2 separate regions of the Homo sapiens genome follow, and region 2 is linked to region 1. Evidence: fine-mapped expression QTL. A gene starts in region 1. The other region holds a variant in brackets. All regions are shown on one strand. Distances are from middle to middle. Region 1 holds the start of PGK1 (phosphoglycerate kinase 1). Region 2 has its middle 36 kb from the start of PGK1.

The links.
Region 2: its variant is fine-mapped to the expression of PGK1 in blood mononuclear cells (TOPMed, PIP 0.97).

Annotation. Positions count from the first base shown.
Region 1 is chrX:78,102,689-78,105,188 of GRCh38, forward strand. It overlaps PGK1 (phosphoglycerate kinase 1), which reads left to right and starts at 1,560. Exons shown (of 11, transcript NM_000291.4): 1 at 1,560-1,717. The coding sequence starts at 1,653. RefSeq lists a silencer at 1,447-1,506.
Region 2 is chrX:78,066,855-78,069,877 of GRCh38, forward strand. No RefSeq gene overlaps it. Among named protein-coding and RNA genes, the nearest start is that of PGK1, 36 kb to the right of the region's middle. The variant G/T (reference allele first, on the strand shown) is at 1,676.

The sequences.
Region 1 (2,500 bases):
CTGGGACCAGTCTGCCTTTCTTTGTAGGTGTAACAAATTAGCTACAAGATTATAAATTACAGTTTAGGGGCCATGCAGCCTCTGGCTGCAAGAATCTGAACCTCCCCAAATTGCTTCTGGGAATAACATCACCATTGCAAATCCTAAGATCAGTGCTTGAGATATTTTGCAGACCCTGCATTCTCATGCAGCAGAGGACACCACCCAGACTGATAATCTGGCTCAACTAGCTCCACGATCCCACCCAGGAAGAACTCGCAAGAACTCACTTCGACCCCGTGATTTAATCTTCATCCCGACCAACTAGCACTCCCCACTTTCCGAACCCATACCTGCCAAATTATCCTTAAAAACTCTGATTCCAGAATGCTCAGGGAGACTGATTTGAGTGATAATGAAACTCTGGTCTCCCGCACAGCGCTCAGCGTGAATTATTCTTTCGCCATTGCAATTCCCGTCTTCATAAATCAGCTCTGTCTAGGCAGCGGACAAGGTGAACCCATTGGGCGGTTACACTTTCGTTTTCAATACATCTCTGCTTTTATTGCTTCATTCTTTCTTTGCTTTGTGCATTTCGTCCAGTTCTTAGTTCAAGACGCTAAGAACTTGGACACCCTCCACGGGTAACAGGACTACAGGTGCCCGCCACCACGTCTAGCTAATTTTTTGTATTTTTAGTAGAGATGGGGTTTTGCTATGTTGCTCAGGCTGGTCTCGAACCACTGGGCTCAAGCAATCTGCCGGCCTTGGCCTCCCAAAGTGCCGGGATTAAAGGCGTGAGCCACCGCGCCTGGCCCACTAAACTTCTCTGTGCATCAGTTATTTCATTTGCCTAATGAGGATAACAGTAGTCACTACTGCGTTTTGTGAGCGTTGGTTAATATATGAAAAATGCCACGTGTTTGCCATTAGCATCAATCATGCCATAACCAGAAAAATTACATTGCATTTTTTATTTTAAAAAAGGTGGGGGCCAGAGTGGACCTGGGCCTCTTCCAACTTCTGAGAGGTCTCTATTACTAAGTAAGCCTTAAGAAGCAGAATTCCATGAAGGGAGCTAGGAAACCAGGATTTTCCAAAAGGAGGTGGCATTTGCATTGATCCTGGTAGGGCAGCCTCGAATTCCACGGGGTTGGGGTTGCGCCTTTTCCAAGGCAGCCCTGGGTTTGCGCAGGGACGCGGCTGCTCTGGGCGTGGTTCCGGGAAACGCAGCGGCGCCGACCCTGGGTCTCGCACATTCTTCACGTCCGTTCGCAGCGTCACCCGGATCTTCGCCGCTACCCTTGTGGGCCCCCCGGCGACGCTTCCTGCTCCGCCCCTAAGTCGGGAAGGTTCCTTGCGGTTCGCGGCGTGCCGGACGTGACAAACGGAAGCCGCACGTCTCACTAGTACCCTCGCAGACGGACAGCGCCAGGGAGCAATGGCAGCGCGCCGACCGCGATGGGCTGTGGCCAATAGCGGCTGCTCAGCAGGGCGCGCCGAGAGCAGCGGCCGGGAAGGGGCGGTGCGGGAGGCGGGGTGTGGGGCGGTAGTGTGGGCCCTGTTCCTGCCCGCGCGGTGTTCCGCATTCTGCAAGCCTCCGGAGCGCACGTCGGCAGTCGGCTCCCTCGTTGACCGAATCACCGACCTCTCTCCCCAGCTGTATTTCCAAAATGTCGCTTTCTAACAAGCTGACGCTGGACAAGCTGGACGTTAAAGGGAAGCGGGTCGTTATGAGGTAATTCTGCACGTTTGCCCGCGTGCTCTCTGTGCTCTGTCGCAAACCTCTTTGGCCGGAGCCGACTTGTTCTCTCGTCTGCTCTAAGTTCTTTTAGCTTTTGGCTGGGCCCCAGGGGTCCTAGGCTTGGAGGGCGAGGCTGCTCACGGGTTTGGTGGTTTCTAGCCGCATTTTCCCCAGCCCAGAAAGCACCCGAAGTCACCCTTCGGGGATGGATCCCACTGAGGAAGGGCTGAGATTGCCGCTGGGACCCATTTTGTCCTTTTTCCTATTGGTGAAATGCAGTTCCGTTGCCTCCAGCTCCCAGTCGGCGAGATGGGACTTAATGCTTATCCTGCAAATCTCTAGGCTTCAAGGAAGGGACCTTGAAAGGTCATTTTACTTTCCCTTCCCCCACGCTCCTAGACCGTCGCAGCCAAATGAGAAACGGCCCACATCTCACAGGTTCCTGCACAAAAGGATATTTTTCCAAGAGGATGTTGATTTAACTTCAGGAGTAGACCCCCCCGCCCCCCGCCACTAAAGAATTGGGGTGGGAGGGTAGGGCGGGGCGAACTGGAGGAGGCCCTGCAGAGCTTACGTAACAGGCGTCTGCTGCCCTGCAGCGCGGTATCGTTGGACTCTTGGGCACAGGATTTGCATCAGGATTGTGACATACTAGGTAATGGTAGAGCAGGGTGTGGCTGCTCATACTTGCTGGCCTCCAATCTCATCCCCACGTGTGGCTAGAAAAGTAGAATTTTAAAATTGGGGGAAGTTTCCTCGTGCACTTTGGGTCTCTTA
Region 2 (3,023 bases), 36 kb before region 1:
AGAATCGTTTGAACCTGGGAGGCGGAGGTTGCAGTGAGCCAAGATTGCACCGCTGCACTCCAGCCTGGGTGACAGAGTGCGACTCTGTCTCAAAAAACAAAACAAAGCAAAACAAAACAAAACAAAACAAAAACTCTAGAAGGCCAGGCACGGTGGCTCATGCCTGTAATCCCAGTACTTTGGGAGGCCAAGGCGGGCGGATTGGTTGAGGTCAGGAGTTGGAGACCAGCCTGGCCAACATGGTGAAACCCCGTCTCTACTAAAAATACAAAAAGTAGCTGGGCATGGTTGCACACATCTGTGATCCCAGCTACTCGGGAGGCTGAGGCAGGAGGATTGCTTGAACCTGGGAGGTGGAGGTTGCAGTGAGCTGAGATCGCATTGCTGCACTCCAGCCTGGGCAACAGAGTGAGGCTCTATCTCAATAATTAATTAATTAATTAAAAATAAAAAATAAATAAAAATCTAGAAGAAGCAGTTGGCCTTCTTTGTACAGAGGCCTGGAAGAAGAGGTTCTGCAGAAATAGTGAATGGTGGATGATGGTTGCCAAGATACAGTTATGTTAGCCCCTGAACCTTCTCTATTTCAAACTAGGCATCTCTAGTTATTTTAGTTCTTTCACCTTCTCCCTATTATGCCCAACTCCATTAGACACGTGGTATATGACCTTGGGCTTCTTTTGCTTTCATTTCTACATTTTAGAACAGGAACAATGCCTGTTATCACTCAAAATGTTAAGGGGACAGGCAGGGATGAGGGAAGGACCAATGAGGGGAGACTACCTACATTTGCCAATGTTTAAGATGCACAAGACAGTAAAACTATCTCCATTACACAGTGAATTTGTGTGTGTGTGTGTGTGTGTTGGTGGGGGGGGTCTCAACTCTTTATCATACTTGTTTTAAAAGTGATTTAATAGTGTTTTTCAGGGGCAAAATTTAGTTCATTCATTTAAATATTGAATTCTGGAGCAGTGGTGAGATAATACAAACTTGTGTTTGCAGTTAAGCCAATCTGTCATTTCATATCTCCTTCTCTTGGCTTCCTGTCATAATAACAGTATGCTATAGACACTGAGTAATGTACATATACATTTGGCGGAAAGTATATTGAATACAGGTACATATGGTAACATCAACTGCAGGACTGTGTGCTAGATATTTACATTTCTTATCTCACCATATTTAATCCTTACAAAAATCTTGTGAGATTCTTATTGCCTTTTACAGATAAGACTGAGCTTTATGTGATCTGACTTCCCCAAGGAGACACAATGTCAGGCAGAACCAGGATTTGAACTTGGATATGCATGATTTGAGGGAGCTTTTCTTCTTCTTCTTCTTTTTTTTTTTTTTTTGAGATAGAGTCTAACTCTGTTGCCTAGGCTGGAGTGCAGTGGCACGATCTCTGCTCACTGCAGCCTTCACCTCCCATGTTTGAGTTATTCTTCTGCCTCAGCCCCCCATGTAGGTGGGACTACAGGTGAGTGCTACCAAGCCTGGCTGATTTTTGTATTTATAGTAGAGACAGGGTTTCACCATGTTGGCCAGTGTGGTCTTGAACTCCTGACCTCAGGTGATCCACCTGCCTCAGCCTCCCAAAGTGCTGGGATTACAGGCATGAGCCACCATGCCTGGCTTTTTCTTCTTGTTTTTTGTTTTTTGTTTTTTTTTT[G/T]ACAGAGTTTTGCTGTGTCGCCCAGGCTGGAGTGAAATGGCGTGATCTCAGCTCACTGCATCCTCTGCCTCCTGGCTTCAAGTGATTCTCCTGCCTCAGCCTCCCAAGTGGTCGGGATTACAGGTGTGAGCCACTACACCTAGCTAATTTTTGTATTTTTAGTAGAGACGAGGTTTCACCATGTTGGCCAGGTTGGTCTTCAACTCCTGACCTCAGATGATCCACTCACCTTGGCCTCCCAAAGTGCTGGGATTACAGGCGTGAGCCACTGTGCATGGCCCTTTTCTTCTTCTATGATCACCAGAGTTGTCACTTCCCTGACCCTCACATTAATGCTGTTGGTTTTGAAAGCCAGCCAGGCTGAAGTGAGATCCTTCTGATGGACATATCGATGCAGGGCAAATAAACGATTTGCTCCAGATGACTCACTGTAGCTAAGACTGGAATCTAGTTTTCTTGACCATCTGCCAAACCAGAAAGTACATCTTAGATCAAAAGATGAGGGAGCCTCTTCTTACTGTGTAGCAGGATGAGCCGCAGACAAAACCCCTCAGACACAGGGCTAAAGAAGGAAGAGGCTTTATTTGGCCGGGAGCATTGGCAGACTTGCGTCTCAAGAACCGAGCTCCCCAAAGAAAGAGTTCCTGGCCCTTTTAAGGGCTTACAACTCTAAGGGGTCCATGTGAAAGGGTCGGGATAGATTGAGCAAGCATGGGGTAGGTGACTAGGTGAGGATTGTGAGCAAGGCAAGTATTTTTCCATACCATTTTCTGTGATCTATAGATAGCACAAGTGGTTAGGGTGGGGATTAATCTTTAACCTACAGGCCTGGCCAGTGGCCCCAATCAGTCTATTATTTTTCAGTTTTCACTTCCTCCTTTTTCTTTGGAGACAGGGGAGAGTAGGAGAAATGGCCTCTCTCCTCAGCTGCAGCAACACCGACACTGACCAAGAAAACAAGAAAGGGATTAGCATGTCTCCCCTTCTCCTTAGGTTCTGAAATAGGATTCTGACGTTTCAGATGGGCAAAAGAAGGTCCTTGCAAAGCTGTTCAAATAGCAAGAATGATATGGGGTCATATTATCAGGGACTATAGGTACCGGAGTAGGGAATTCAGCTTTCTTTGGGCTATACTTTTGTCCAGGTTTCTTAAAGCTTCAGCTTTGGATTTCAAAATATAAGTGGACAAAGTTAAGGGGGCAGAAAAGCAATCATAAATATATTTATTTATTTGAAAAGCTTTTACATAGTTCTTACTTTGTGCTAGGTGCTGTTCTAAATATTTTACCTGTATTAACTCATTTAATCCTCATAACAATGTTATGCAGTGGGTACAATTATTATCCCC